Homo sapiens: one gene and its partners. The protein of the gene in region 1 purifies or fractionates together with the protein of each later gene. This does not show direct contact. Each region holds a gene or a part of one and is shown in the gene's direction. Other genes may lie near its edges.

Region 1 (8,040 bases):
TCTCCTCCCTCCCCTCTCTTCCTTCCACCACTAAACAGCATACCTCAGGCTTCCATCCTGGAGCCCATGTCATTCAGGGATGGCTGCTTTTTATTTTTAACCTTGGCATGTGTGATTCTAAGCAAGCTTAGCTGTGAACCTTAGAGAGGGAAGCCATGTCTTATTTTTTATTTATTTATTTTTTTTTAGCACATTTGGATTCTGCTAAAATTCTCAGCTGAGTCTTGGTAGGTTTTATTTAACATCAAGCATGCTGACAGCTCTGCTTCTCTCTTCTCTCCCCCTCTACCACCTTTCCCCACTTTATATTTCTAAAAGACTATCCTAGAGGTCTGGTCGTAATTGCCCTCTCCCCATTGCTTGACCAGGAAGGCTGGGAGGCTCCAGTGTCAGGAAAAGGCTGTGTGGTTTGTGCTTCTTTCAGTTACAAATCCACACCCCTAGAGTCAAGTGTTTAGCTTGTGGATTGCCATTTCTGTGCAGGGTAATACTACCCCACTTAGATGCTGTTTCCATAACCTCCAGAACATCTTTCTGTATGTAAAGAACATTTTTGTACATTTCTTTTTATTATGACCAAGTCATACACATTAACTGCAGAAATCATGGGGATTTCTGGAATCTTTTAAAACCCATGTTCTTACTTTCTTCCTGAATCCCATGAGCTAGGTACGGTGGGTGACAGGATGTTCCGCTCTCTGTCCACTGCCTTGTCAGTTCACAGCTTGCCATCATAAAGCCAGGGTCCACTGGGCAGACATAGCCAAAGAACCCTTGCACCCATTGGAGTGGACTGTGCTTTCCAAAGGGGGAGGTGCAGAGTTGCAGGCAGTGTGGATCTTAGTATGATCTGCCCACATCAAAGCCCCTGGTGATAACTTCCTGATCAGGAGGCTGAAATCCAGATAGTGGAAAAATCAAAAGCTTTACCCTTAACCCAAAGGAGGGGCTTCTTTCTGTGGGTAAATGGAGATAAAGCTGAAGGCCGAGTGATATAGCCAGAAAGACACCATCATTTGGAGAGACCAGGAGACAGAGTCTGCACCTTCTTGTCCTTAGCCTGATCCTTCTTGGGAACCACTCCCGTTCAGGCCACTACCAGAGAGCCCAGCCTTCTGCAGTGGGTTCTCTCCAATTTGCTGTCTTTCTGCCATGCCATCTCTGATGCTTACCTCAACTATGTGTCTGGCCTGGGTTCTCCCCCACCCACATTTCCTCCCCGAGGTAAGAGCTGCAGGGTGGTATCTCCTAGCTGCTTGGACAGGTGGGCAAAGCAACACCAGGCTGATGAGGGAACCAGGACAGGGAACCACAGTCAGAAGACCAGAGGTGGTCACCTAGGTGCTGTATGATTTGAAGAAAGGTGATTCTCCCAAGTCTCAGCTTCCTCATCATGGAATGGGACCTGTAGTAACTATCCTAGAAACGTGTTGTGAAGAATAAATGCAAAACTGTACATGAAATTGCCCTGGAAAATTCTATGATATATAAAGACAAGGCAGTAATGTTACTACTGTTATTGCTACTAATTACTACAACACTCCTGTTATCACTATTAGTTCTGTTAGTATTAAAAATATTAGTTTCTGATGCTGCTGCTGTTACTAAATCGGGCTGAGGAATTAATCAATTGCTATAAAGATAGTTCCATACTTTCCTCTTTATTCCTTCCCTTCCCTTCCTCCTTCCCTCTCTCCCCTTTCCCTTCTCCTTTTCCTTCCTTCCTTCCTTCCTCCCTCCCTCCTTGCCTGCCTTCCTTCCTTCCCTCCTTCCTTCCTTCCCTCCCTCCCTCCTTCCCTTCCTTCCTTCCTTCCTTCATTCCTTCCTTCCCTCCTTCCTTCCTTCCCTCCCTCCCTCCCTTCCTTCCTTCCTTCCTTCCTTCCTTCCTTCCCTCCTTCCTTCCTCCCTCCCTCCCTCCCTCCCTTCCTTCCTTCCTTCCTTCATTCCTTCCTTCCTTCCTTCCCTCCTTCCTTCCTTCCCTCCCTCCCTCCCTCCCTTCCTTCCTTCCTTCCTTCCTTCCTTCCTTCCCTCCTTCCTTCCTTCCCTCCTTCCTTCCTCCCTCCCTCCCTCCCTCCCTTCCTTCCTTCCTTCCTTCATTCCTTCCTTCCTTCCTTCCCTCCTTCCTTCCTTCCCTCCCTCCCTCCCTTCCTCCCTCCCTCCCTTCCTTCCTTCCTTCCTTCCTTCCTTCATTCCTTCCTTCCTTCCTTCCTTCCCTCCTTCCTTCCTTCCCTCCTTCCTTCCTCCCTTCCTCCCTTCCTTTTCTCTTTCCTTCCCTCCTTCCATGTTAACAGAAAGTCAGTTCACATATCTGGGTGTCAGTCTGCTCACCTGTGAAATGGCAATGATGCCTGAACTGCTTTGCAACCTTATAAAAATCAAGTAAGACTATCTACATGAAAATGTTTTTCCAAATCTAAGGTTATCTTTAGGATGCTCTCCATTCTAAGGAAGTTTGGATGTGAAATAGACTCTTCAGGGTCATCTTTTATAAACAGATATAAGCTTTGCTGTGTGTAGTAGTTTTTAGAGTCACAGGGAAAGCTGAGATATGTCTGAAGTGTTCTCAATTTTGCTGGTGTTTCGGTATGGCAGGGGAATGTGTGTGTGGAGGAAGTGTATCTTTTCTAAATGCATTGAAATGCCAACAAGAGCAAGTTAATATGTGATAATTGACTCTGTGTTCTGGTGTCCAAATTTTGATAGATGAGCCTGTTCTATAAATTTCAGACTTCACTTCACAACTCTGGTTATTTATTTGTTCAGCATCGATGATGTTCTTGGGATGGTGCAAAGCAAAGAAGACAGAATATTTGCCCCAGAGGCAACAGTCTAAGTACGAAAGAGAATAAAAAGCCCAGAATAAGATCTATCACATTATCCAGTTCATTTTCATCAAGAAATCATATTCTAATTGCAAAGCCCAATTCTGGAAATGCAAACCTTAGAAAAAAATAAAATCAAAGGCAGAAGGTAAGGGGCCTCCTGCCATGACGTAGTTAATGCAGACAGTTTTATCATCTTTCAACAAATTGATCAACACACAAAACAGACTGATCTGTGCTCATTGGGTGTGCACATAGATGAATGTGTGTGCACACCCACACATGTGCACCTGCATGCACAATTGCAGCATCTATGCAGACTTAGGCCTTTATACAGAAATTCCCTGTCTTGGTCCAGGCGAACGTCACACAGTATGATTAAATGAAACCATTGAGTCCATAAACCCCCCCCCATTTGTCTTGCAGCACTCTGTCAGCCTTGCAGCATGCTGTAGATATAATACTTAGTGCCAGCAAATGTACAGTTCTTGTCAGGCATGGAGGAACATTCGGAATGGGCAACAAGAATTGTCATTGCTCAAGGAAGTTTTTTGAAGAGCTGGTTTCCCTTCCCCTTGGAGCTGAGAAGGGGAATGAAGAACAGGCTTTCCCCAAAGCCTTAGTCTATTAATCCATTTTCACACTGCTGATAAAGACATACCCAACACTGGGTAATTTAAAAAGAAAAAGAGGTTTAATGGACTCACAGTTCCATGTGGCTGAGGAGGCCTCACAATCATGACAGAAGGAGAAAGGCATGTTTTACATGGCAGCAGGCAAGAGAGAAATGAGAGCCAAGCAAAAGGGGAAACTCCGTAAAAAGCCATCAGATTTCGTGAGACTTATTCACCATCACGAGAACAGTATGCGGGAAACCGCCATGATTCAATTATCTCCCACCTGGTCCCTCTGACAACATGTGGGAATTATGGGAGCTACAATTCAAGATGAGATTTGGGTGGGGACACAGCCAAACCCTATCACTTGTTACAGGAGCATTTTAGGTGGAGAAGATGCTGACAGCCCCAGTACTTTCCAGCTACACACATTGTTAAGCCTGTTTTGGATGTTAACGTGTGAAAATACCACTGAAAGGTTCTAAGAAGCGTCTTTAACATCTCTGAAATTAGCATGTATCTTATGATTGATGGTGTCTTAGATTGAAGATATAGGATGTTTCCATACTGATTCCGGAAATGCCCTCTGCCTGGGAGACCTGGCTTCCCCAGCCTAACCTGGACTCTCTGGACCTTCCAAAGAGCCAGTGACTAGACCCTGCTTCATCTCTGTAGCCAGCAGGGCTCTCTTCTGATTGGTCCGGGAGCTGGATTCATTTTATATTTTTGAATGTTACCCATGCCATCTCCCTGAAAGCAACTATCCTGAAATTAGGGAAGGTGTGGGGCTGGTACTCACAGGAGATAAGATGCGATGGTGGGCATGTCCTTCATGGCCTGCTGTACAGAGGCACTTGCTGTACCTTGCACATATCTGGAGACACATCCAAAGGGCCCTAGCGGATTTGAAGCAGAGTCAATGCTCAACAGGTGCTATTACCTGCATGCTTTGGTAATGCTTTGGTAATATTCTGTGTATCTGGTATGCAGGGCTGTAGAATAACTTTGGTTAGACCTCTATGAATCATTCCTGTATGATCGAGTGACAGGGTGCATGGGGACGGGGTGGGGGAGCACACAGCTCCCTATTGATCAGATCCCCTGGAGGACTTGAGGAGAGGTCATCTCCACCTGTGAGGGCTCAGGGCAGGTGATAGGGAAGTGGGGCTTTGCGGGGTAGTGACTCAGAACTGATAAGTCACACAGATAACCTAAACCTGTGGGACTCACTGTCTCTGCTGGAGCTAACTCCGGTGCAGGTTAATCCATTCGTTTGTCAAATGCTTTCCATTGGCCAGGCTTGGTGCCAGGCTGCTGTAGGCCGGTTCAGCTGCCACTTTGTTCTCCTAATGGGCTGCATGGCTGGGCTGAAGCACTGTGAGGTTCACAAGCAGCTTGACGAGGTGGGTAAAAGCCACCCGGGAGGGGAAATGACCTTGTGCTTCTGAGGAAGTTATTATTAAGTATGTTTTTCCAGGGCATATGAGACAGAGGTTTGGGCTTGGGTGATCTGGAGCCGGAGCATCACGTGGATTTCCTGGGCATGGGTCCATTGGGTGTCTTCCTAAGCTTTTCAAATCAGAGGAGCTGACAATGGCTCCACCTCAGTGTCCATGGCCACCAGCCACCATGAACACTCCCCAAGTGAGAAAGCCAGAAGTGTCTGCTCTAGGTGGAGGCTAAAGGACCTCTCACACTGCCTTCCAAATGGTGGCATAGTTATTTGGGAGGGAGAATTTTTTCAGATTTCAGACATTTTTGTGCCACCTTCATGACATTTGCCAAAGCCCAGCATGACCTCTACTATTATTTTCTTAATTTTTTTTTGAGACTCATGCAGTGGCACAGTCAAGGCTCACTGCAGTCTCAACCTCCCAGGCTCAAGTGATCCTCCCACCTCAGCCTCCCAAGTAGCTAGGACTACAGGTGTGCACCAACACACCTGGTTAATTTTTAAAATCCTTTGTTAGAGCCAGGGTCTTGTTTTGTTGCCCAGGCTGGTCTCAAACTCCTGGGCTCAAGCAATCCTTCTGCCTCCACCTCCTAGAGTGCTGGGATTACAGGTGTGAGCCATCTCATCCAACCTTCTTAATTTTTTTGCTTAAGTTAGCCCATTTAAAAATGATAATTTATCACAAAGAACAAGTTTTCCCCTTCAGTTTATATATTTTAGAATAGACAAGATATTCAGCTGGGTGCAGTGGCTGACGCCTGTAATCCCAGCACTTTGGGAGGCCAAGGCAGGTGGATCACCTGAGGTCAGGAGTTTGAGACCAGCCTGGCCAACATGGTGAAACCCCATCTCTACTAAAAATACAAAAAATTAGCTGGGCGTGGTGGCGTGCGCCTGTAGTCCCAGCTACTTGGGAGGCTGAGGAAGGAGAGTTGCTTGAACCTGGGAGGCAGGGGTTGCAGTGAGTCAAGATAGCACCACTGCATTCCAGCCTGGGCAACAGAGCAAGACTCCGTCTCAGAAAAAAAAAAAAAAGAAAGAAAGAAAAAAAGATATTTGTATTGTGAAATTCAAAAGTGACAAAGGGTATTCAGAGAAAATTAATCCCTTCCTTTCTACCTCGTCTTTCAGCCAAGAAGTTCCTCTTCCCAGAAGCAACCATAGGTACCTGTTTTTGTGTATCTTTCTAAAGATATGCTATGGATTTGCAAATCTAACACATACTGTGCAAGTATAGTTAAAATAAATATTGTTTAAAAGCAACTTTATTTTGAAGCCACCCTAAATGGAAAACCGGCAACACTTGCCATAATTAGAAAGTGATCATAAAAATAAGTTAGATTGAAAACAAAACAGTGTGATTGAATTTTTGCTCTCTAGTGTGACTGGAATGTTCTAAGCCTGCAGTGATTTCCATCTTTGCTTAAAAGAGGATACTAGGGGACACTACTAAGAGCAGTTAAAGAAATATCAATATCAATGTGAGATGTTTCTCCTTGATGTAATCAGAAGGAATGAAGGTAAAGAAGGAGAGATAATACATCTCACTGTGTGATTTGGTGGTATTTAGTAAGTCTGTGTAGTACCTAAAATTACCAAGATGAGGCACACAACTGACGTTATGGGAAATATTGTTGGAGTTTGCCGAAAACTCAGTTTAAGTAAATCCAATGATGGGCTGGGTGCGGTGGTAATGCCAGCACTTTTGGAGGCCGACGCTGGGTAATCGCTTCAGCCCAGGAGTTGGAGACCAGCCTGGGCAACATAGGGAGACCTCTTCTCTAAAAAAAAAAAAAAAAAAATTAGCCAGGCATGGTGGCAGGCACCTGTAGTCCCAACTACTTGGGAGGCTGACATGGGAGATTCACTTGAGCCCAGGAGTTCGAGGCTGCAATAAGCTATAATTGCACCACTGAACTCCAGCCTGGGTGATAGAGTGAGACTGTTTCTAGCTTTTCAGGTTTCTTTAATGTGTTAGCGATTGGGAGAGATGAGCCAAAAGAAAACTCAGAACAAATATGAGCACTAAGAGGAGAGTTTGACCTGCAATATTTACAAGGGAGTGTAGCCTTCCCAAGAACCAGGTTCCCTGAATAAAGGGTGTGGTGAGCATTTAAAAGACAATGTCAACTCACAGGGTTACAATGGATTTCTTCATTATTCTTACTGGTGGAAAGTCAGCAGTATTCTCCACAATTACCACATCTACATAGATTGTCACGTATCTGTAGACGTCAGTGTCACAAAAGTCAGAGATAAAGTTGTTTTCACTAGGGAATCAGCAATTTATGAGACAGTGGCACAAGGCTTTTCTTTATTTTAATTTTGAGGCTCATGTGAGAGAGGACGTCCCTTTTGTAAAATCTCAGGATGCAAAATACCTTTTCTTCCATTCTGGAAAACATGACGTGAAGCTTAAAAACATGACATGGGCTGGGCGTGGTGGCTCATGCCTGTAATCCCAGCACTTTGGGAGGCTGAGGCAGGTGGATCACGAGGTCAGGAGATCGAGACCATCTGGTTAACAGAGTGAAACCCTGTCTCTACTAAGAATACAAAAAATTAGCCGGGCGTGGTGGCAGGCACCTGTAGTCCCAGCTACTCAGGAGGCTGAGGCAAGAGAATGGCGTGAACCCGGGAGGCAGAGCTTGCAGTGAGCCGAGATAGAGCCACTGCACTCCAGCCTGGGTGACAGGGCGAGACTCCGCCAAAAAGCAAGCAAACAAACAAACAAACAAACAAACAAACCATGAAGCTTATACACAGGGCTGGGTAGGATGTCAATTTTGCTTTCTCAGGCAGTTTAATTTCACTGGATCAAGAGCGGAAGACAATGCAACTTCTTTGTGTGCTTTTAACTGTGTAAAAGAAGACCCACTGCAGAAAATGGTCCCTGGAATTTCCCTTGGTTAACAGAGGCAATGCAGAGGGTGTCTATGATGACAGGGCTTCCCAAGCTTGCCTTTAATAGGGCTGATGGTCAATTAAAGGGAGATGGCTTTCTTCCACCTCAGGGTGCTCCCTAGCCTCAGTGCTTGCTGCTGGGTGAAGGAACCCCAGATCAACCCTGAGGCTGATGGAGAGATGAGTGGGCATTGAAGCAAGGCCTCACGGTGGCACAAGGGCTTTTTAGGAAGCATACAAAGAC
Region 2 (8,040 bases), on another chromosome or scaffold:
TCCTGACCTCAGGTGACACGCCTGCCTTGGCCCCCAAAGTGCTGGGATTACAGGTGTGAGCCACCATGTCTAGCCTGAATGAATTTCCTTCTTGCTTTCTTTTCACTTTTTTTTTTTGAGACGGAGTGTCACTCTTTTGCCCAGGCTGGAGTGCAGTGGTGCAATCTCAGCTCACCACAACCTCCACCTACTGGGTTCAAGCGATTCTCCTGCCTCAGCCTCCTAAGTAGCTGGGATTACAAGCACGTGCCACCACACCGGGCTAATTTTGTATTTTTAGTAGAGATGGGGTTTCTCCATGTTGGTCAGGCTGGTCTGGAACTCACAACCTCAGGTGATCTGCCCGCCTCGGCCTCCCAAAGTGCTGGGATTGCGCAGGTGAGCCAGCACGCCCGGCCCCTTGCCTTCTCTTCTCTTCTCTTCTCTTTAAGACAGTCTCTCGCTATATTGGCCAAGTTGGTCTTGAACTCCTGGCCTCAAGCAATCCTGCCATCTCAGCTTCTCTAAGTGCTAGGATTACAGGCGTGGATGCTGTGCCTGGCCTGAATTTCAAATTAATTAGTTATCTTTGTGCTTTGGTAGGGAAACTCTGGTAAGGAAAGTATAATATAGTTAGTGCTTAATTTTGAACTATAGAATTAATAGCTTCTAAAACTTTTTGAGTTATTACTAGTGATATGCAAAATACAACCACCTAAAGATCTTTTTGAGCTTATATCTAGGACCTGTTGGGCAATATGCTGAACCTTCATAAGCCTTCATTTCCTTCTTTTTTTTTTTTTTTGAGACCAAGTCTCACTCTGCCACCCAGGCTGGAGTGCAGTGGCGCGATCACGGCTCACTGCAGCTTCTGCCTCCCGGTTCAAGCAATTCTTCTCCCTCAGCCTCTTCAGTAGCTGGGACCACAGGCGTGCGACACCACGCATGGCTAATTTTTTTTTTTTTCTGTATTTTTATAGAGACGGGGCTTTACCATGTTGGCCAGGCTGGTTTTGAACTCCTGACCTCAAGTGATCAGCTTGCCTTGGCCTCCCAAAGTGCTGAGATTGTAAATGTGAGCCACTGAGCCTGGCCATTTCCTTCTTCTTAAAATGGAGCAGTATTATTTACATCAAAGAGTTGTTCTGAGGATTAAATAATATATATATATGTGTATATATATATCTAAATAAAGCTTAGCAGTGGCAAACACTATTATTGATAGACATTGTTTTATTTCCACTTTTGGACTGTTTTGAGTAAAGCTGATAATGAACTTTCTGTTTTTGAGATAGAGTCTTGCAATATTGTCCAGGTTGGTCTTGAACTCCTGGGCCCAAGTAATCCTCCTGCCTCAGCTCTCCAAGTAGCTGGGACTATATGTGCGAGCCACCATGCCCAGCTCAACATTCTTGTATATATGTTTTTTGGTGGACATAGGCATTCATTTCTCTTAGGTGTATACCTAGGAGTAGAATTGCTGGATCACAGATATATTTAATTTTTGTAGATACAGCCAAACAGTTTTTTGAAGTGGCTTTAGTATTTTGTGCTCCTATCAGAATGTGTGAGAATTGCGGTTGCTTCATACCCTGTCCCACAGTTGATATTGTCAGTCTTTAAATTTTAGCCATTCTGATGGGCAGGTAGTGGTATCTTATTGTGGTTTTAATTTAGATTTCCCTGTTAAGTAATGATATGGAAGTACCTTTTAATAGGATTTGTATATCTTTTTCTTACAAAGTGCCTGTTATTTTTTTCTTATGGATTGCTATGTTGATGCTGGATGTGGGTCCTTTGGAAACAGATATTGTGAATACTCTTCCCTAGCCCATGGCTTGCATTTTTACTTATTGAAGTCTTTAAGTGAACAAAGTTTTTAATTTTAATGAAGTCTGTGTTGTCATTTTATTTTCTTTTATGGATAGTACTTTTTTTCTTTGAGACAGGGTCTTTTTTTTTTTAACAACATTTTATTTTATTTATTTTTTATTATTATTATACTTTAAGTTTTAGGGTACATGTGCACAATGTGCAGGTTAGTTACATATGTATACATGTTCCATGCTGGTGTGCTGCACCCATTAACTTGAGACAGGGTCTTATCTGTCACCCAGGTGGGAGTGCAATGGCATGATCTCGGCTCACTGCAACCTCTGCCTCCCAGTTTCAAGTTATTCTCGTGCCTCAGCCTCCCGAGTAGCTAGGACTTACAGGTGCGTGCCACCACACCCAGCTAATTTTTGTATTTGTTGGTAGAGATGGGGTTTCGTCATGTTGGCCAGGCTGGTCTTGAACTCCTGACCTCAAGTGATCCACCCACCTCGGCTTCCCAAAGTGCTGGGATTACAGGGGCGAACCACTGTGCCCTGCCCTTTTATGGTTAGTATTTTTGTGTCCGTTTTTTGTTTTGTTTAGTTTTGTCACCCAGGTTGGAGTACAGTGGTGTGGTCATAGCTCACTGTAACCTCAAACCCCTGGGCTCAAGCAGTCTTCCTGCCTCAGCCTCCCAAGTAGCTAGGACTACAGGTATACACCACTACATATGGCTAATTTTTTAAATTTCATAGCGCTGGGTTTCACCGTTTCCCAGGCTAGTCTGAAACTCCTGGCCTCAAGTAATCTTTCTGCTTTGGTTTCCCAAAGTGCTGTGATTATAGGCATGAGCCATTGAGCCTGGCCCTGTCCCCTGTTTAAGAAGTTTTTGTTTTCCCTATATTCAAAAACATATTTTAAATATTTGACACTGATTTTTTTTCTCTGCATGAACATAGATGATGCCATGGAGAGCAGCAAGCCTGGTCCAGTGCAGGTTGTTTTGGTTCAGAAAGATCAACATTCCTTTGAGCTAGATGAGAAAGCCTTGGCCAGCATCCTCTTGCAGGACCACATCCGAGATCTTGATGTGGTGGTGGTTTCAGTGGCTGGTGCCTTCCGAAAGGGCAAGTCCTTCATTCTGGATTTTATGCTACGATACTTATATTCTCAGGTAAGATAGAATTATTTTATTTCAAGTAAAAAGTGAGACTTTAATGTCCAAAAAAGCGAAATAAGCTCATAGATTATCCTTGATGCATAAAATTTTTAATTTAAGATTTAATAGAAATTTCTTACTTCTGTAGAAGGAAAGTGGCCATTCAAATTGGTTGGGTGACCCAGAAGAACCGTTAACAGGATTTTCCTGGAGAGGGGGATCTGATCCAGAAACCACTGGGATTCAAATCTGGAGTGAAGTTTTCACTGTGGAGAAGCCAGGTGGGAAGAAGGTAAGGATGAAAATGACCTTACAGATTAACAACAACAACAACAAAATATGAACTTCAGCATGTACTGTGTTAACCCAATTAAAAACCTTTTATCAAAGAATTTAAAATGGGTAAAGTAAGAAAAGTTAAAAAGTCCCTGTTTTGTCCTGAAATTTTAGTCTGTTGTGGATAAATAGGATTTTCTGACACAGGTATGCGAAGTTGTAGCTCTGATGTCTAGCTGTAGTCTCCTTGGTCTGCTGATTGCATTATTTTAATTTTCTTTTCTGGAAAAACATTTTTGCTAAAAGCTATACAGACTTTTTTGTTTGTACCTAGCAGTACTTTATGTAGTATTCCTTAGGGCTATGTAGCATTTTTAGACTCAGTTAAAAAATATTAATCTGTTGCTGACTCTGTTAATTCCTATTTCAACATGTGTTTCCTTGAATAATTCAGGATACAACTTACTGTGTATGACAGCTTTCCTTCACACACTATTTTTGTGGGTGTGTGTATATCCAACTTGGGGAGAATTTAAAAAACACATAGCTTTTTAATTTGTTTGAAACAGACCTTCTGCCTGTTACATTTTGTGCTCTTAACCAATTAAAGAAGCCAGTGGCAGCCGGGTGCTGTGGCTCACGTCTGTAATACCAACACTTTGGGAGGCCAGGGTGGGCAGATCACAAGGTCAGGAGTTTGAGACCAGCCTGGCCAACATAGTGAAACCCTGTCTCTACTAAAAATACAAAAAATTAGCTGGGTGTGGTGGTGGGTGCCTGTAATCCCAGCTACTTGGGAGGCTGAGGCAGGAGAAACGCTTGAACCCGGGAGGCAGAGGTTGCAGTGAGCCGAGATCACACCACTGTCCTCCAGCTCGGGCGACAGTACGAGACTCCGTCTCAAAAAAAAAAAAAAAAAGCCAATGGCATTTTTAGTTTCATATTGTGTTTTCCACTGGTATATACCTGTTGATTTGTTTGTGTCTTTTATGAACTGTTATTTTCTGAAATTTTTTTTCAATAAAAGGAAGGAAGATGTGAAAACAACTTTTTATCAAAGTGAATGATTTAAAATTAATACATATTGATTGTTTTTAAGATTCTTAAATAAAATGCATGAATATAGTTTAAAAGGTCAGGTACTACTGTAAGGCTTCTAACAGAAAGCAGCTGTCATGTGTGTTATTCTCCTCTCTACCCAGTTTTCACTTCCCAGAGGCTGATGCTCTTATGTGTTACCACTTCTGTTCTTTACTTCCTTACTCCTGTATGGGTGGCACAGACCTGGCTGTTGTTCTGGGAGTTGAGCAGGGAAATGGCATTGGGGATCTCACTGTTCAGAAGGTGGGCATTCACTATCCCCTAGCTATCAGTAGGGCTTCTTAGCCCCAGTCTCATCTATGCCTTGTAAGCTATGGGCATAGAGCCTCTCCACAGATTTCTTTGTAAGGATCGGGAGGGGTAAGTCATGTGTTTCTTATACAGACTTTCATCCATTACTTCTGTTTTTAGCCCAATCCTATAAGCATGCCTTCACACCTGTTTGTCCTTTTTTTTTTTTTTTTTTTGAGATGTAGTCTCACTCTGTTGCCCAGGCTGGAGTGCAGTGGCACCATCTTGGTCACTACAGTCTCCGCCTCCCAGGTTCAAGCAATTCTCCTGCCTCAGCCTCCTCATTAGCTGGGAGTACAGGTGCACACCACCATGCCTGGATAATTTTTGTATTTTTAGTAGAGACAGGGTTTCACAATGTTGGCCAGGCTGGTCTGGAACTCCTGACCTCGTGATCCGCCTGTCTCAGCCTCCCAAAGTGCTGGGATTACAGGGGTGAGCCACCACACCTGGCCACCTTTGATATTTTGAAGTGCTGGAGTGTTGGTACTGAATTCTTTTAGCTTTCATACATCTGAAAAATCTTTATTTTGCCTTTGTTTTGGAAAATATTTACTCTTAGTGTAGAGTTCTAGGCCAACGTATTTTTCTCAGTACTTCAAAGGTGTTGCCCCTTTGCCTTTTTGCTGACATTGTTTCTTTTTTTTTTTTTTGAGAGGGAGTCTCTCTGTTGCTCAGGCTGGAGTGCAGTGGTGCGATCTCGGCTCACTTCAACCTCTGCCTCCCGGGTTCAAGCAATTCTCCTGTCTCAGCCTTCTGAGTAGCTGGGACTACAGGCGCGCACCACCACGCCTGGCTAATTTTTGTATTTTTAGTAGAGACGGGGTTTCGCCATATTGGTCAGGCTGGTCTTGCACTCCTGACCTCAGGTTATTCACCTGCCTCTGTTTCCCAAAGTGCTGGGATTACAAGCATGAGCCACTGTGCCCAGTCTGCTGACATTGTTTCTGACAAGAAATACACTGTTATTCTTATTTTTGTTCTTTTGTACCTAATCTGTCTTTTTTGTCTGGTTGCTTTTTTCTTTAAATTAAAAAAAATTTTATTTTCGTGGGTACATAGGTATATATATTTATAGGGTATGTCTGGTTGCTTTTAAGATTTTATCACTGTTTTTGAGCAAATTATTATGTGTTTTGATGTAGTTCTTTTTTTTTTTTTGAGACGGAGTCTCACTGTGTCGCCCAGGCTGGAGTGCAGTGGCGTGATCTCGGCTCACTGCAAGCTCCGCCTCCCGGGTTCACGCCATTCTCCTGCCTCAGCCTCCCAAGGAGCTGGGACTACAGGCGCCTACCACCACGCCCGGCTAAGTTTTTGTATTTTTAGTAGAGACGGGGTTTCACTGTGTTAGCCAGGATGGTCTCGATCTCCTGACCTCGTGATCTGCCCGCCTTGGCCTCCCAAAGTGCTGGGATTATAGGCGTGAGCCACTGCGCCAGGCTGATGTAGTTCATGTTATTTGTATGTGGGTTTTGTTGAGCTTCTTGAATCTGCAGATTTATAATGTTTATCAAATTTGGACATTTTAAGGTTATTATTTCTTCAAGTTTTTTTGGTCTGTTACTCCCTTTGGAGACTCCTATTACATGTGCCTCTTGCTGCTTGAAGTTGTTCCACAAGATGTTCATTTAAAATTCTTTGGCCGGCGCGGTGGCGCACGTCTGTAATCTCACACTTTGGGAGGCCGAGGTGGGTGGATCACCTGAAGTCAGGAGTTTGAGACTAGCCTGACCAACATGGTGAAAACCCATCTCTACTAAATACAAAAAATTAGCTGGGTGTGATGGGTCATGCCTGTAATCCCAGCTACTTGGGAGGCTGAGGTGGGAGAATCGCTGGAACCCGGGAGGTGGAGGTTGCAGTGAGCCGAGATCGCACCATTGCACTTCCGCCTGGGCAACAAGAGCTAAACTCCATCTAAAAAAAAAAAAAAAGGCCAGATGCGGTGGCTCACGCCTGTATTCCCAGCACTTTGGGAGGCTGGGGTGGGCGGATCACCTGAGGTCAGGAGTTCGAGACCAGCCTGGCCAACATGGTGATGCCCTGTTGCTACTAAAAATACAAACATTAGCTGGGCGTGGTGGCGCCCACCTGTAATCTCAGCTACTTGGGAGGCAGAGGCAGGAGAATTGCTGGAACCTGGGCGGCGGAGATTGCAGTGGGATTAGGAAGAGTACTCAGTCTTGCCTCAGTAATGAGGAATAACAACACTCTGGTTCCATTTAACAAATCTAAACAGCAAGAACAGAAAAAACCAGAGTTTCCAAATTACTTAACTACATCTCAGAATAAAGCTAGATATTTTATAGGAATGCAAAAATAACCAGCACCCAACAAGGGAAAATCCACAAGTCTACATCCTATCAAAAATTTGCAGACATAAAAGAAGCAGAAAAATATAACCCAAATGAGGAGAAAAATCAATCAAAACTGTCTCAGAACTAACACAGATATTAAAATTAACAGAAAACAACTTTTTTTTTTTTTTTTAGACAGTCTTGCTCAACTAAAAATACAAAAATTAGCCGGGTATGGTGGTGTGCACCTGTAATCCCAGCTACTCAGGAGGCTGAGGCAGGAGAATCGCTTGAACCTGGGAGGTGGAGGTTGTGGTGAGCCGAGGTTGCGCCATTGCACTCCAGCCTGGGTGACGAGCAAAACTCTGTCTCAAAAAAAAAAAAAAAATAGGCCAGACATGGTGGCTTAGGCCTGTAATCCCAGCACTTTGGGAGGCCGAGGTGGGTGGATCATCTGAGGTCAGGAGTTCAAGACGAGTCTGACCAACGTGGTGAAACCCTGTCTCTACTAAAAATACAAAAATTAGCCGGGCATGGTGGCTCATGCCTGTAATCCCAGCTACTCGGGAGGCTGAGGCAGGAGAATCGCTTGGACCTGGGAGGTGGAGGTTGCAGTGAGCCAAGATCGTGCCATTGTACTCCAACCTGGGCAACAGAGTGAAACTCCGTAATCCCAGCACTGTGGGAGGCTGAGGCGGGCGGATCATGAGGTCAGGAGATCGAGACCATCCTGGCTAACACAGTGAAACCCCGTCTCTACTAAAAATACAAAAATTAGCTGGGCGTGGTGGCGGGCGTCTATAGTCCCAGCTATTTGGGAGGCTGAGGCAGGAGAATGGCGTGAACCTGGGAGGCGGAGCTTGCAGTGAGCCGAGATCGCGCCACTGCACTCCAGCCTGGCCACAGCGCAAGACTCCGTCTCAAAAAAAAAAAAAAAACAAATTGTATCTTTATTTTGTTTTAGGTTTTCAGGAAAATTAATTGCAACCTGCCCAGTTCCCACATTCTCCTTCAGTTTGCTCTGTTGTTTACATCTTGTAATAGTGTGATACATTTGTTACAATTAATATTTGAACCAATATATTGTCATTAGCTAAAACCCATACATAGTTTACTTTAGGG
Region 3 (7,923 bases), on another chromosome or scaffold:
ACATACCTTGAATGCCACGTGTCACATCTCTTTGGCCCACCTTGATTTTAGGAAAAGTTTTTAGGCAGAACTCTTAAGATGTCCCCCACCAAGATTCCTGTCCTCTAGCTATTCAATTGAAAATAATCTAGTTACTGTTGTGAAGGGACTTTGTGGAATGGAATGAAGTTTACTAATTAGTTGACCTTATATTTTATAATTTTTTAAATTAAAAAAACTTTTAGAGATGAGGTCTCATTATGTTACCCAGGCTGGTCTCTAACTTCTGGGCTCAAGCAACCTACCCACCTTGGCCTCCTAAAGTACTGGGACAGGTGTGAGCCATTGTGCCTGGTCTTTTGTTTGTTTTTTTTTTGTTTTTTTTTTTTTTTTGTAGCGACAGGGTCTTGCTATATTGCTCAGGCTGGCCTCGAACTCCTGGGCTCAAGTGATCCTCCCATCTCGGCCTCCCAAAGTTCTGGGATTACGGGCATGAACCACCACACCTGGCCAATAATTGACCTTAAACAGAGGAAGTTACCCTGGATTATCTGACGGCATCTAATATATCACATGAGCTCTTAAAACCAGAAGAGGAAGGTATGAGAGAGAGGTAGAAAGGGAGGTCAGAGAGATCCAAAGTGTGAGAAGGACAAGATCTGATGTTGCTGGCTTTGAAGATGGAAGAAGGGGCCTACAAGCCAAGAAATGCAGCAGGCCTCTAGAAACTGAGAAAGACCCCCAGATGACAGCCAGCAAGCAAATGGGGGCCTTAGCCCTGCAATTGTGTGGAACTGAATTCTGCCATTGAGCTGGACGTAGATCCGTTCCTAGAGCCTCCAGAAAGGAGTGTAACCTGCCAACGCCTTAATTTTGGCTTCCTGAGATTCCAACCAGAGAACTCACTAAGTCACACTGTGCCTAGACTTTTGACCTACAGAAATCATGAGACAGTAAACTTTTGTGCTGTTTTAACTGCTAAATTTATAGTAATTTGTTATGACAGCAGAAAATGAGTACATCTAGGATGGATGGTTCTGTGCGAGCTTAGTCTTCCTCACACTGGCGGCATCCCACTTGAATAAATAATGTGTCCGTCTCTCTTTATACCTGCCTCAAAACCTTCTCTGATGTCCTGGGAGCCTGCTTGGCAACAGGAGACCAGAAATACAAGGAAGTTAACTCCCCTAGGGAAAATGCTTGACCAGTGGAGGAGGGGGTCAGTAGGTAATTGCTTCAGCCTCACACCTCCTAACTCTGGGAGGCATTTGTACACTTCTGAAAAGACGTGGCAGAATTAAGTCCCCATTATCTATAGCAGCGACATCCTCAGTGCACCATTGGTTTGGCTTTTCTTTTGTTCTTGTCTCATTCTGTTCAATTCCTAACTCTTACTTCCTGAGATTACCTTCCAAATGACCTCCTGCTCCCAAGTCCCCTTCTCGGTCTTGTCAGAGATTGATAGGCAATCAATAGTCAGCTCCATCAGCTCACCTTGCTCAGAATAAAAGGGTAACTTATTGGAAGAATGGTCAAGTGTTTCACACCGCAACTAGGCCGCCAGGAAGACTGAAATCAGGACACCAATAACACTAAGTTTCTCTCTGTCCCTTCCCTCTAATGGCATTATCTTGTTTGTTTGTTTGTTTGTTTGTTTGTTTGTTTTTGAGAGAGGGTCTCACTCGGTCACCCTGGCTGGGGTGCAGTGGTGTGATCACGGCTCACTGCAGCCTTGACCTCTCAGGCTCAAGTGGTCCTCCCACCTCAACCTCCCGAGTAGTTGGGAGTACAGGCGTGTGCCACCATGCCTGACTAATATATTTTAATTTTTTGTAGAGATGAGGTCTCACTATGTTACCCAGGCTGATCTCAAAAGCCTGAACTCAAGTCATCCTCCCACCTCAGCCTCCCAAAGTGCTGCGATTACAGGCATGAGCCGCCGCACCCGGCAAATGGCATTATCTTTAAAGAGGATGAAATCTCTCCTGCAGACCAGAGAGTAAAATCCCAAAAAATGACTGGAATTGATGCCCTTTGGGTCAGTATTCATGATTGGTCCAGTGGAAGATGGGAAGCTATCATTGGACTAATTTTGACCACTAGGTCAGAGTACTAGCCCTGGGTCAAACTGTCAAGGCCAGGTGGCAGTGTCAAGGACTCCAGGCATGGCCAACAGGGGACACAATTGTTTCAGGGCATCCCAGAAATAGTGGGATGACTGGGAGCTGGGGAAACCTTCCCACTATTTTTCCAAAACCTTCACCACCCATTCCCTGTTCTCTTAGTTCCTCGTTAATGATTCTTTCTGTTTCCTTCTTAGACTCTCTCCTTCCTCTGCCTGTCCCAGAAATGCTGGTGTTCCTGAGAGTGCCGTCCTTACCCGTTTTCTTCTCTTTCTTTCTTTCTTTCTTTTCTTTCTTTCTTTCTTTCTTTTTTTGAGACAGAGTCTCGCTCTGTCACCCGGGCTGGAGTGCAGTGGCGTGATCTCGGCTCACTGCAACCTCCGCCTCCTGGGTTCAAGTAATTCTCCTGCCTCAGCCTCCCAAGTAGCTGGGACTACAGGCGCCTGCCACCTCGCCTGGCTAATTTCTTGTATTTTAGTAGAGATGGTGGTTTCATCGTGTTGCCCAGGCTGGTCGCAAACGCCTGAGCTCAGGTAATCCACCTGCCTTGGCCTCTCAAAGTGCTGGATTACAGGCTTGAGCCACTGCACCCAGCCTCTTCTCACTCTTTCTATTCCCAGAGTCACCTCACTCTTTGGTAGACATGGTATTCTCTCCAACATTTAACCCACTCCACAAATGTAATCTCATCTAGTCATGGTAATTCTATCCCCCTCGGCAATAATTTGTCTGGCATAAAAAGGCCTAAACCAGATTAGACCAAGGAGATTCAATGAGATGTTTGTTTAGGACTTCTGGGAAAGAGAAATCAGTCTTACCCTTGCCTGTGGAATGGGAAGAGCAGTCAATAGCCATAGCAGCCATTTTGTGGCATGAGGGGAACTGGGTTTGTATATGAAGTCAGTGGTGGGGAGAGTAGAGCAGTGAGACGGGAACATCTCAGGTTCCTAATGACATTGTTGGATCAGAGAAAATACCCACTCTGCCCTGCCACTGGGCTCCTTGCTTTGCAAGTTGATACACTGGCATATTCCTTAAGTCAGGCTGAATCGGGTATGGGCGACCTGGAGCTGAAGGCATTCCACTTCATTCACATTTACCACCATAAGGTCTCTCAAGCTCACTTTCCTCGGCTGCAGGTCTACCAACACTTCCCAAGCTCCCTGCTCCTCTTCCTGGGTTCCCTACAATTCATTTTACTTAACCAATAAGAACTGGGTGCCCGCCATCATCCCAAGCTCTGTTTTAGACATGCAGACAGGGAATGAAACAAAGTTGCTGTCATTGCGGACCACTGAAGGAGGCATATGATAAACAAAACTATCTTCTGAATAAATGAAGTAATGAATAATGCAGTGTAGGAACTCTATCAATAGCGAGTGAAAAGCTTATTATCTACAGACTATCACACCAGGGGCTGGTACTCACTTAAACGGCACTAGGAAGTGAGTGTCAGATGCTGTTCCGGCAGCCCTTGGCGTCTAACAAGGTAAATAAGACGGGGCCTGTCCTCTGGAGCCCAGAATCCAGGAAGAAAGGCGCACATGTATTGAGCGCTTGCTTTTCAGGCCCCGTGGAAGTGCTTTACGGGAACCATCTCATTTAATCCTCCCTGACTCTAGGAGGTTCTCCCAGGAGAGACCGCTCCAGACGACATCAGGCCTACAAGCCAAGAAATGCAGCAGGCCTCTAGAAACTGAGAAAGACCCCCAGATGACAGCCAGCAAGCAAATGGGGGCCTTAGCCCTGCAATTGTATGGAACTGAATTCTGCCATTGAGCTGGACGTAGATCCGTTCCTAGAGCCTCCAGAAAGGAGTGTAACCTGCCAACGCCTTAATTTTGGCTTCGTGAGATTCCAACCAGAGAACTCACTAAGCCACACTGCGACCCGGCAGGCTGGGCAGTGCAGCGAGCTCTGGAGAGTGCGCCCTGACCCGGGGTCCAGGCCCGGTCAGTGTGACCTTGCGCGAGTCACGGTCGTCCTCCGCCCGCCAGGCCCCGGACGGCGTCTGCAGGGTCCGATTCCTGGGGATTTCCCGACGCCCCTTCCCCCGAGGTTCAGGGGCTGCCTGGGGTGCCGGGGAGGGGGGCCGAGGGATGGGGGACCTGGGGCTAGAAGGGTGGCACTGAGACCCGTAGGGAGGGGGCCAGTGAAGTGAGTAAAGGTGGATCGACGAAGAAGGAAATCCTTGGGGAGAGAACCACCGACGCGCGCTTCTTTCCCCCCCCCGCCCCGCCTCCGCCCCCGCCCCCGCCGCGCCGCCTCTCTCCCGCGCTCCGGAAGGCCTGCGTCCCCGCTCCCCAGCCAGGCGCCACCACCTGCCGCCCAGGCAGCCAGGCGACTCTTCTTTCGCGGGTCACGCGGCCTGACTCAGGCCCCTGCTCCTGTGGCCCCGAAACTCGCCGTTCGCTGGGCCTTGCGTTGCACTCGGCGTGCAGTTCCCCCTCGGCTCGCGGCCACTTGGTCCGCGCCGCCTGCGTCCTGTGTGCCGAGCCCGCCCGCACTGCGGGGACAGGCCGGGCGCCGCCCACGCCGCGCTCTGCCGGGCGCACAGTCTGCCTGGGAAGCGCGCGGCCGGGCGGGCGGCCATGGCGCGGCACGCTGGGAGGTAGCGCGGCGGCTGCAGGAGCGCACAGTCGGCCATGGCCCGGCGGCGGCGCCGCGCCTGCATCGCTCTGTTCCTGGTGCTGCTCTTCGCCTTCGGCACCCTCATGGGTCTGCGCACGCTCAAGGCTCCGGACGGACTCCCGGCGCTGGGCCCGGGCCTGGAGCTGGCGCCCTTTGAGCGACGCCCAGAGGGGGCCCCCGCGCCCGCTGCCAGGGCCCCGGCAGCCCCTGCCGCGCCGCCCCCGCCGCCGCCGCCGCCCCGCACCGCGGACCCTGGCGGCTCCCCTGGGCCGGCACCCGCGGAGGCCGAGCCCGCCCCCGTGCAGAGCCTGCGCGTCTACTCGGACCTGCACGCCTTCTACTACTCGTGGTACGGGAGCCCGCGGCGCGAGGGCCACTACATTCACTGGGACCACGTCATGGTGCCGCACTGGGACCCCAAGATCTCGGCCAGCTACCCCCGCGGCCGCCACAGCCCCCCAGACGACTTGGGCTCCAGCTTCTACCCGGAGCTGGGGCCCTACAGCTCCCGGGACCCCGAAGTGCTGCGGGAGCATATGACCCAGCTCAAGGAAGCCGCCATCGGTGAGCGCCCCCCACCCCGGGCGGCCCTGCCCCCCAGCCTCACCCTTCCTCCTTCCCACACCCCAGCTCCCTCTGGTCCTGTCACCGGCCCTTTGGTCCCACTTATCCGCCAGCCTGGCTTCTTAGCTGTTCCCTCCCACTCTCATCCTGGGCCCACCATGCGACACCGCCCCTCCGTCTAGTATTCAGACCCCCCAGCTGGGCCCTTCCATCCCTAACATCCAGGGCCCTTCCCATAGGGCGGAACTGCTAGGAGTTTGCACCAGGAGAGGGAGGCAGAGTCTTCAAATTTGTTGGGCGATGGGAAGTGAGGCCTGGAGTCCTGGCCCGCAGGTTCTGGGGTTCAGAGGAGTGGAACTTAGGGCGGCCTCTGCTTTCATGGCAGGTACAGGGTAGAGCAGCAGCCGTTCCTGCTTTTGCTGGCTGCAGAGAGGAAAGTGTGCCCGTGTTCCATGAAGGCCTCTGCTCTATTTGCAGTTGGAGGTAGTGTTGGGGGTTTAGAGGCTTTTCATCAAGCACCCAGCTGGAGGGAAGGTCCCAGGGCGCCTCCTTCGTAGGCTATGGAGGGGAGGCTCACTTATTTCGGATTTCGTCACTGAATTTTGCTGGATTTTACAGATGGCCTCTGCTCAGGGCTCTTCTCCATGCGGGACGTTAGGGTTAGGGGTGCTTCTCTTCTTCAGAGGTAGGCCTGTGGCTTCCAGGTGGGTGTGGCACTGTCCTCCCATTCCCTTTGTTCTACTACTTGCTGAGGCAGTCTAAAGCCTGGCTCCCTTCCGGCCTGGCGCGCTACGGTTCCCGCAGGCGCTCCGCTTCAGCACCGCGGGCGTGGACAGCTCCGGGGCGCGAGGCTCTGGGACTCATCTGCAGGAAGTGAACCTGGCAGGAGGCTTGCTTCAGGTTTTTAGGAACCATTTTTGCAATTGGAGATGTTTGTGAGGAAAAAAATCTCTGTTGAGGGGGGTACTGTGTGTCTCTGAAGTGGCCTCTGTGTTGCGTCTCAGGCGTCCTGGTCCTGTCCTGGTACCCACCTGGCATGGCTGATGATAACGGGGAGCCCTCAGATGACCTGGTGCCCGCCATTCTGGACACCGCCCATCAGTACAGCATCCAGGTGAGTCTCCAAGAAGAGGCCACGTGCTCTCTGCCCTATTCTGGAGAGTTGCTCTCCTCCGCCCACAGGGTTAGTGCCTCTACAGAAGTTCTTGGCAGTAGCCCAAAGGGATAACAAATATGTGGCAAGTGTGGTTTTGGGGGAGGGTTCAGATAAATGGTGCCTATGTTGCTCTTAGTTTTTTGAATTCTAAGAAAACTGAGAAAACTAAATATAGGACCAAGAGAAGACTAAATAATTATCACTTTTGTTAAATAATAATAGAGGTTAGGTTGTAAACCCTGGTGGAAAAAGGGTAGGCAAGAGCCAAAGGGACCTGCAGACTCAACTCTCTAGTGGGAGGCAGTGCTGGACCTCGAGGAGTAGGCAGGTGTTCTCAGCAGGTGGGCTCACTTTCAAGAGGAAGGACGGACTGGACGAAGCATTTCCCCACATGTGCCAATCAAGTAAGTCATCCCTTGCTTCTGTGGTGAAGGAAGAAAAATGATAGAGAAAGAAGAAAAGCCCCACTCCCCTATTCCTGAAGAGAATTCCACCACTGACATGTCTAACAGATCACAGCAGTTTTCCACTGACACAGCTTCAGCATACTTATTCCACTGTTTCAGGCAGCTAGCACCAACCACTTGGAGCTGGCACAAGGTTGAAACCTATTAGCCACCCTGTAACAGCCCACCAAAATGATTCCCACATGCCCTGCTGCGGGAGATGGGCAAACTGCTCACCCCTGTTTTGGCCTTCAAGGGCAGCAGCTGCCTTTATCTCTACTGTGCCCACCACTGCCAGGCCCTCTTCTGAACTCAGCCTCTCCTCCAGGCCATGGTTAGATCCTGAGCCTGATATGTTGTGGCCCCTAGATAGACACTCACCTGACCATTACTCCTCTGTTTGTGGCAGGTGGCCTTCCACATCCAACCCTACAAGGGCCGGGATGACATCACTGTACATGACAACATCAAGTACATCATTGACACGTAAGGCTGCTCTGGGGGCCGGGATTTTGGTGGGGATCAAAATGGAGGTAGGGATAGAAGGTTTGGAGGGGCAGGTCAAGAGACACAGGGCATAATGCCTGTGTTTCCCAGCAGCTGTTTTATAGTAAGAGAGTACTGGGCCTAAAGTCAGGCAGCCTGGGTTTCAATTCCTGTCCTGTGGCTTCTAATCTGTGATGAGGCAAGCCTCTTAACCTTTGAGTCTTGTGAGAATCACACGAATTAATATATGTGAAAGTAGCTTCTACAATGTAGGCACCTCATTTATTCATTCAGAAAGTATTGAATGAAGGCCAGGCATGGTGTAATCCCAGCACTTTGGGAGGTCGAGGCAGGCGGATCACTTGAGGTCAGGAGTTCGAGACCAGCCTGACTAACGTGGTGAAACCCCGTCTCTACTAAAAATAAAAAAATTAGCCAGGCGTGGTGGCGCACACCTGTAATCCCAGCTATTCAGGAGGCTGAGGCAGGAAAATCGCTTGAATCTGGGAGGCGGAGGTTGCAGTGAGCCGAGATTGCA
Region 4 (8,040 bases), on another chromosome or scaffold:
ACGATTTATTTCCAAAGAAACCTCTCCCTTATCTAGAGTCACATCTCTAATGCATGCCACAGTTTTAGATGTGATAGAATATTAAAGATCACACAGGTCAATCTCTTCCCCTCTTAGGAAAAAGGGACATTTTTCCAGAATGGCAGCACCAAAATCAAGAAAATCAATAGTTGAACTTTCTGGCTACAGACTAATAGAAAATATGGACTTGACTCTTATATTCAAATAAACAAACTATGAATTCCTAGGAGAAGAAATTCATTTTATTCTGAATCTAGTTTTTATTAAAGTCAATGGTCAGAGCAAATAAACATATTTGTGCATATATGCACCTCTTAATGCTAATTTATTTTTAGACCTGTAAAATCTGAGACACCACTTATTTTTAGCTGAATTTGTATGTAATTTTGCTAAAGGGATGTTAAAATAATCATTTGCTATAAAAAGTCACTTTTGAATCCTTAAAGAATTCTAGTTGTTGGCAACTTGTTTGTAAAAGACAAATATGTCACATTCTCAAGAAGTATTGAAAATCTCTATTTTGGTAGAGCCATAATCAAATTATGGGCAATAGGTGTTATAAGCAACTGCATTTATGTTCCTGTGCGTAGGAATAAGTACTATGAAGTATTAGCTATTGTTATTGTGCCTTTTATTTTTCTGCCGTAGAACCTGGTGAAGCGCCAAAAAATTCTCCTAGCATACTAGCTATGCTGGAAACACTACAAAATGCTCCCTACCTAGAAGTCCACAAAGACATGATTCGGTGGATATTGAAGGTAAAATTTCCACATTCCTCTGCTTTTTGTGAGAAATATTGAATATTTGTTATGTGTACATTGTGATCATATTTCATACAGGATACTGATACTTTTTTTTTTGTAGACTTTTAATGCTGTTAAAAAGATGAGGGAGAGTTCACCTACCAGTCCCGTGGCAGAGACAGAAGGAACCATAATGGAAGAGGTATAAACAGTAAAAAGTGTGATAATACTAAAAAATTACAGCAAGTTCAGTATGAACAAAATAAATTTATCTACATTAAGTTGCCAGTTACTCACAACATTTAAATTCCAAGAAATATGCCACTATTTATCTCTATTTGTTGTAGCAATTTTTTGTCTGCTTTTTTTCTTTAAAACAAGTCAGTTTAAGAGTCTTTTCTCTTATTTAAATAAGTGAGATTATAGAATAGTTTTTTAATTGGTATTTACAGTGAAGATATTTCTGCTTTGGAAAAAAATGTGCGTTTTAGCATCTAATTGTCTAATTGAATGGAGCATAATTTCAGAGTTCAAGGGACAAAGACAAAGCTGAGAGGAAGAGAAAAGCAGAGATTGCCAGACTGCGCAGAGAAAAGATCATGGCTCAGATGTCTGAAATGCAGCGGCATTTTATTGATGAAAACAAAGAACTCTTTCAGCAGACATTAGAACTGGATGCCTCAACCTCTGCTGTTCTTGATCATAGGTAAAAAAAAAAAAAAAAAAAATTAATGTCTTGACGAGTTTTTCCCAACTAGGGGCAGTGTTGCGTTTTCTCCTTGTAAGTATACTTTTAATCCTAAAGTAATTTAGTAGAATTCATAGGTAAATTTTGTGACCTCCATTTAGAAGATTTAATCTTAGAAGTCTCTGAATGTAGGTATGGTAAGTCCTGTGTACACCTGGTAGGGTATTTTCTGCAGAAGACCTTGGACATTCATGAAAGAATGAGTACACTACACTCAGTTACCTAGAGCGTATGACATCTGTGTTGAAGATTAGATTACTGTGAGGATTAAAGGAGATGGTTTTGATACATACCAAAGACTTGACAATCCAAGTTATCAAAACCATGTGTTAAATATATACATTCCTGGCTGTGCGTGGTGGCTCACGCCTGTAATCCCAGCACTTCGGGAGGCCAAGGCGGGCGGATCACAAGGTGAGGAGTTCGAGACCAGCCTGACCAACATGGTGAAACCCCATCTCTACTAAAAATACAAAAAAAAAAAATTAGCCGGGTGTGGTGGTGCATGCCTATAATCCCAGCTACTCAGGAGGCTGAGTCAGGAGAATTGCTTGAACCTGCGAGGCGGAGGTTGCAGTGAGCCAAGATTGTGCCACTCACCCCAGCCTGGGTGACAGAGCAAGACTCTGTCTCAAAAAATAAATAAATATATATACACACACACACACACACACACACACACACACACACACACACTACACACACACACACATACCTGTAGTCTGCTATTTTGTGATTATATAGAAAGTTTTGGGATCATTAATTATATTCATAACCTTTGTATTGCAGCCCTGTGGCTTCAGATATGACACTTACAGCACTGGGCCCCGCACAAACTCAGGTTCCTGAACAAAGACAATTCGTTACATGTATATTGTGTCAAGAGGAGCAAGAAGTTAAAGTGGAAAGCAGGGCAATGGTCTTGGCAGCATTTGTTCAGAGATCAACTGTATTATCAAAAAACAGAAGTAAATTTATTCAAGATCCAGGTAAGTCATAGCTAGATCCTCATCTTCCCTTTTAATAACAACTGCCAGTTAATGTGGTTGGTGATACGTTGAGATTTTTTAAACCTAAAAATAACTCCATGGACTTGGATGGTATCTTTGGCAGGTAACTTAGGCAGGAATTCCCCACTTGGCAGATGTGGAACCACTCCAGAAAGTTGCACCTGAATCACATAGCTGATAAATAGCAGGGATTCAAAGAAAAGCTTTTCTTTGTGATGTAACATTACATACTTTGGCATTTCACAGTCTTTTCCATCCTTCAGTACACTTGCAAAGTCCTGGTCATTTGTTGACACACTGAAATAATAATTGTTTTGTCTTATTGATAGAGCCTGAGTGGAATCTCCTGAGAACAGTGATGGAGAGTTACCTATGTAAGAGGCAATCCTTGAGCCAAATTGTTTTAGAATAGTAATACCACCACAGATCGGGTTCCCCAGAAAGCAGATTCTTGGGATACAGATTACCGTGCAGGACAGTTGAGGGCCCTCTTTCAGCAACTGAGGGAGTAAAGCAGGGAGATCCAGTCCGCACATGATTTTGTCCACCACAGACACATTTATTTCTCTGCTTGTAGGTTGTGCTCTGTGTGCGTGTGCTTCAGCGATACCCAGTAAACTTCTTGAGAGTAGGAACTGTGTCTTGGGAATTCCCAGAGCACTGCTTTAACCAGTGCCTTTCACACTGCAGCGTGAAAGGAGGTTTGAGAGCCCACTTTTAGAGTTGCCTTCTCTCTGTAAAGAAAGTCTTTGCATCCTACTTATGAAAGGTTGGTCTGCTTCATCTTTAAAAATGGTCATTTAGGCTGGGTATGGTGGCTCATGCCTGTAATCCCAGCACTTTGGGAGGCCGAGGCAGGTGGATCACCTGAGGTCAGGAGTTCAAGACCAGCCTGGCCAACATGGCGAAACCCCATCTCTACTAATAGTACAAAAAAAAAACTAGCCAAATTTGGTGGCACGCGCCTGTAGTCCCAGCTACTCAAGAGGCTGAGGCATGAGAATTGCTTGAACCTGGGAGGCAGAGGTTGCAGTGAGCCGAGATTGCACCACTGCCCTCCAGCCTGGGCAACGGAGCGAGACCCTGTGTGGTTTTTTTGTTTGTTTGTTTGTTTGTTTTTAAAAAAAAAAAAAAAGGCCAGGCGCAGTGGCTCATGTCTGTAATCCCAGCACTCTGGGAGGCCAAGGCAGGCAGATCACAAGGTCAGGAGATCAAGACCATCCTGGCTAACACAGTGAAACCCCATCTCTACTAAAAAATACAAAAAAAAATTAGCCAGGCGTGGTGGCAGTTACCTGCTACTCGGGAGGCTGAGGCAGGAGAATGGCGTGAACCCAGGAAGCAGAGCTTGCAGTGAGTCGAGATCGCGCCACTGCACTCCAATCTGGGCGACAAAGCGAGACTGTCTTAAAAAAAAAAAAGATATTTAAACTAGGTGCTTTATAAATTTCATTCCAGGCCAAAGACAAAGTTGCTAATTTTATTTAACTTATTACTTCTGAAGAAAAAGCATTAGCTGGCTATAAGTGGATTTTCTTAATGCTTTGACATTTGCACTGTTCTAGTGTTAAAGCAAATTAAAACTATTAAAGCAAATTAAAAGTAGTTCTTTCTAGAGTGTTAGGAAATTTCGAAGATTATACTAATTTATATAAAGAATTCAAAAATTCCAAAAGAAGCCAGACATCCATCTTGTTTTTCATGATTTTTCATCCCCTTTGAATATAAAAATTAGCACCAGGACAGAAGACTCTGAATTACCTTTTTTCCCCCCATCTGATCTGGTCTGTGCTTAGATTTTTTGTTGTCACTTTGGCTCTGATGTGATTATTCGCTGTATGAGTGTTGTTAGGCAGTCTGTCCTCTAGGGGGCGCCCCGTTACTGCCAAAACATTTTTTATTAGCGATCATTTTAACCCAGCTGCCCTGAACGCACATAAGGCAGCCCCATGAAGAGAGTAGCTCTTTTACCTGGAGCTCAGGGTACAATGGGAGGAATTGGAATATCTCAGCACCCTGAAAGTGTGAAATGTTCAAAAGATTGGATATATTTAAATTCATAGTTCTAATTTCAGTTTAACAATTTGAGAATGTTTAATTAATTTGCTGTGGGTGGTGAAAATTAGAGAGTCCTACTTTCTAAATAATCCAAGGTGTTGCATAAATTGGTATCTCAGAGGAATAAACTAGCATTTCATTTCAAATTTCAAGTCTTTATCAAGGATTTTACAATTTAAAGTTACACATTTGTTATAGGAAAATTAAATGCTTCACTTTTGTTTTGTTTTGTTTTGTTTTGTAATGCAGAAAAATATGATCCATTATTCATGCACCCTGATCTGTCTTGTGGAACACACACTAGTAGCTGTGGGCACATTATGCATGCCCATTGTTGGCAAAGGTAATGTATATTCTTAATATTTGTCAAGAGAAGTTTATCTAAGGGCTCAATATTTTTTAAATAGAGGAAATTTCATTCTAGAAAAAAGGAAAAGAACTAAAAATGTTGAAAAAATCCGTATCATTGCCTAATAAATAACAAAAGTTATTTGCCTTGTCATAGATGTAAAGTGTATGTCAGATATGTTTTTTAATTTAGCTTTATATCCAAGTCTCTTCTATATCTTCCAAAGAAGGAAGTGGATCTGTATCAGTCTGTGGATGAAGAAAAGGGTTTTTACAGTAGGATAAACTCTAGAAGGGTAATGTTGTCTTTCTTTGGGTCCAGGGTGGACAACTTTTGATTCCATAGATGTTAGTACTTGCTTTGTTACTTCCCAAAATTGTAATGGCTCCCTGTGATGAGATGTCCTGAATTTGTTCTACCTTGGTGTTTCCTATGCTTCTACAAAACCAACAAATCAATAATACTATTATTCTAGAACTATGCTCACCCAGTTATCATGAACTACCCCTAACAACTAGCCACCACATTGTAGTCCCAGCTACTTGGGAGGCTGAGACAGGAGAATTGCTTGAATGTGGGAGGTGGAGGTTGCAGTGAACCAAGATTGTGCAACTGCACTCCAGCCTGGGCGACAGAGCAAGACTCCATCTCAAAAACAACAACAACAACAAAAAAAAAACAAATAGCCACCAGCCTTGGGGAAGTGGCAAGAGAACAATGACACCAAGAAATTTTTGTTGCTGCTTTGTGAATGCTTTTTTACATGGCAGTCTTTTTTTTTATTTTACTCTTTTAGAACTTTTAATCCATTTGGATTTTTAAAATCACTCAAAAATCATGTTAAAAATAATTTAGTTTAAGATTTTCATTTTTGAACTATTTGTGGAAACAAATTATTTTAAATGTTGAAGCTTATGGCTGTCATTTATGTAAATTACCATTGTTTTGATACCTCATGTTCTCTAATTGTAAAGGTATTTTGATTCCGTTCAAGCTAAAGAACAGCGAAGGCAACAGAGATTACGCTTACATACGAGCTATGATGTAGAAAACGGAGAATTCCTTTGCCCCCTTTGTGAATGCTTGAGTAATACTGTTATTCCTCTGCTGCTTCCTCCAAGAAATATTTTTAACAAGTAAGTTTTGGCTCATGACAACTATTACAAAGCAATAGTTTGCTTTGAAGATAATGAAATAATAAATCAAGGAGGAAAACTTAGTCTAGGCAATTGCATAGTGTTTTCCAGATACTTTCCAAACTCTAATCATTTTCTTCTAGCAGACCTGTGGAATGTGATTTTAGTTTTTAGAGAGGAACAGGTGAAAATTTAACAGTTTCTAAGCTATTAAATTCCTATGTATTTATGAAAACCAAGTATCTGGTTTATTTCTAGGGACCCTACTTTTAATATCTTCCATACACTTTTCAAGAGATGCTCAGTAAACTGGTAGAGGGAGATGGAACAACTCAAACTGACTTTATAGGACAGTCTAAAAATCGAATAAAACTTTTTGCTGTACTGGCCATTCATAGTTTTAAGAACCAGGCAAAAAAGTGAAAATCTGTTGGTATATTTTAAATGGAAAAATCTCAGCTGGGCGTTGTGGCTCACATCTATAATCCTAGCACTTTGAGAGGCCAAGATGAAAGGATCATTTGAGCCCAGGAGTTCAAGACCAGCCTGGGCAACATAGTGAGACCCTGTCTGTACAAAAAATAAAAAGTTAGCTGGATGTAGCGGCATATTCCTATAGTCCCAGCTACTTCAGAGACTCAGGTGGGAGGCTCGCTTGGGTCAAGGCTGCAGTGAGCTTTGATCATGCCATTGCACTTCAGCCTGAGTGACAGAGCAAGACCCTGTCTCAAAAATAAAATAAGTGCTTGCTTCAGCAGCACATATACTAAAATTGGAACGATAAAGAGAAGATAAGCATGGCTCTTTCACAAGGATGACACACAAATTCATGAAGTGTTCCATATTTTTAGCTCTTTTAGAATTTGTCTAGCAGACTAAAAAAAAATAAGAAAAGAAAATGGAAAATTTCTGTAACTTCACAGTTTTTTGGATGCTTTTAGTTACGAGTATTGGACATACTCATTTCGAGTATGAATTTGATAATGTCTGCTTTTCGAATCTGAACTTCATTTCTCAATGTAGAATTATGCTATCTACGTTGCATGCACAAATACTAAGTTATGTGAGTATAAACGATCCATTTCTGTGTTATTTGGATTCAGTTCAAAGCAAAGTCAGTTTTTTCTTGTCAGTTTTAGGAGTTCAAACTTTGGTGTTCTTAGTCTATGCTACCACAAAATGTTCTTAAAATATTAGTAGATTTGAGTGTAAGCTCATGCTTTTTAATTATAAAAGAATATCGTGGTACTGACTTATCTGCATTTGAACTGATGAAGAAATTAATTATTGTTAGATGGAGGATTAACTGTGTATAAGAAGAAATCACCCTTGTTGGATTTCATCTGTCACTTTATTGGTCCAATTTTTGGGTTTTGCCCATGAGATTCAATTATGGTTTAGTCATATTCGAATACAATCATAAAAAGAACACAGGCTTTGGAATCTGACAGAGCCAAGTTTGAATGCTAGCTTTGTCCCTTATTCGGCCTTAGTCAAGTTACATAGCTCTAAACCTCAGTTTCCTCATCTGTAAAATGGGGACAATAATAAAACCTATTACAAAATATAGGAATACAACCTATGCAAATAATAATACAACCTGAAACAAAATGTAGGGATATTTTGAGGATTAAGTCTAATACCATAAGATATTTACAGTAAAATTCCTTACTAAGTGCTTGTAACATAATAAGCACTTGGTAGATATTAATAGTGATGGTGATTATGATACTTAAGAAATTCTAGCAAATTCCAATACTGAAGAGTGAGATTTTTAATACACAGTGTTATTACCATCATATTGACAAATAATATATTCCTTTCCATTGGCCAATATCCTGATTTTTTTTAATGCAACAAATTTTCCCTTATCCTTTTTGTTTTTAATATTTGGAGTGTGTCTAAAATATGCCTGTGATCATTTAAGGAGTCTTTTGTATCTTAAGGAACAATAATAAAACACTAAATACTCTCT

Evidence for each region.
Region 2: the proteins of HS3ST2 (region 1) and ATL3 purify together in Homo sapiens (affinity purification with mass spectrometry; 2 studies listed by BioGRID and IntAct, with this or other methods). This does not show direct contact.
Region 3: the proteins of HS3ST2 (region 1) and MANEAL purify together in Homo sapiens (affinity purification with mass spectrometry; 2 studies listed by BioGRID and IntAct, with this or other methods). This does not show direct contact.
Region 4: the proteins of HS3ST2 (region 1) and UBR2 purify together in Homo sapiens (affinity purification with mass spectrometry; 2 studies listed by BioGRID and IntAct, with this or other methods). This does not show direct contact.

The regions. Positions count from the first base shown.
Region 1 is NC_000016.10:22,816,944-22,824,983, forward strand, and holds part of HS3ST2 (heparan sulfate glucosamine 3-O-sulfotransferase 2), read left to right. Parts: exon of another isoform or gene 1-1,510; intron 1,511-8,040. UniProt on the Homo sapiens protein: Sulfotransferase that utilizes 3'-phospho-5'-adenylyl sulfate (PAPS) to catalyze the transfer of a sulfo group to an N-unsubstituted glucosamine linked to a 2-O-sulfo iduronic acid unit on heparan sulfate.
Region 2 is NC_000011.10:63,653,966-63,662,005, reverse strand, and holds part of ATL3 (atlastin-3), read left to right. Parts: intron 1-2,753; coding exon 2,754-2,968; intron 2,969-3,043; exon of another isoform or gene 3,044-3,101; coding exon 3,102-3,245; intron 3,246-8,040. UniProt on the Homo sapiens protein: Atlastin-3 (ATL3) is a membrane-anchored GTPase that mediates the GTP-dependent fusion of endoplasmic reticulum (ER) membranes, maintaining the continuous ER network. It facilitates the formation of three-way junctions where ER tubules intersect.
Region 3 is NC_000001.11:37,789,436-37,797,358, forward strand, and holds the start of MANEAL (glycoprotein endo-alpha-1,2-mannosidase-like protein), read left to right. Parts: upstream 1-4,411; 5' UTR 4,412-4,747; coding exon 4,748-5,297; intron 5,298-6,052; exon of another isoform or gene 6,053-6,301; coding exon 6,302-6,411; intron 6,412-7,308; coding exon 7,309-7,385; intron 7,386-7,923.
Region 4 is NC_000006.12:42,657,355-42,665,394, forward strand, and holds part of UBR2 (E3 ubiquitin-protein ligase UBR2), read left to right. Parts: intron 1-669; coding exon 670-779; intron 780-885; coding exon 886-966; intron 967-1,291; coding exon 1,292-1,470; intron 1,471-2,301; coding exon 2,302-2,501; intron 2,502-4,829; coding exon 4,830-4,923; intron 4,924-5,903; coding exon 5,904-6,065; intron 6,066-8,040. UniProt on the Homo sapiens protein: E3 ubiquitin-protein ligase which is a component of the N-end rule pathway.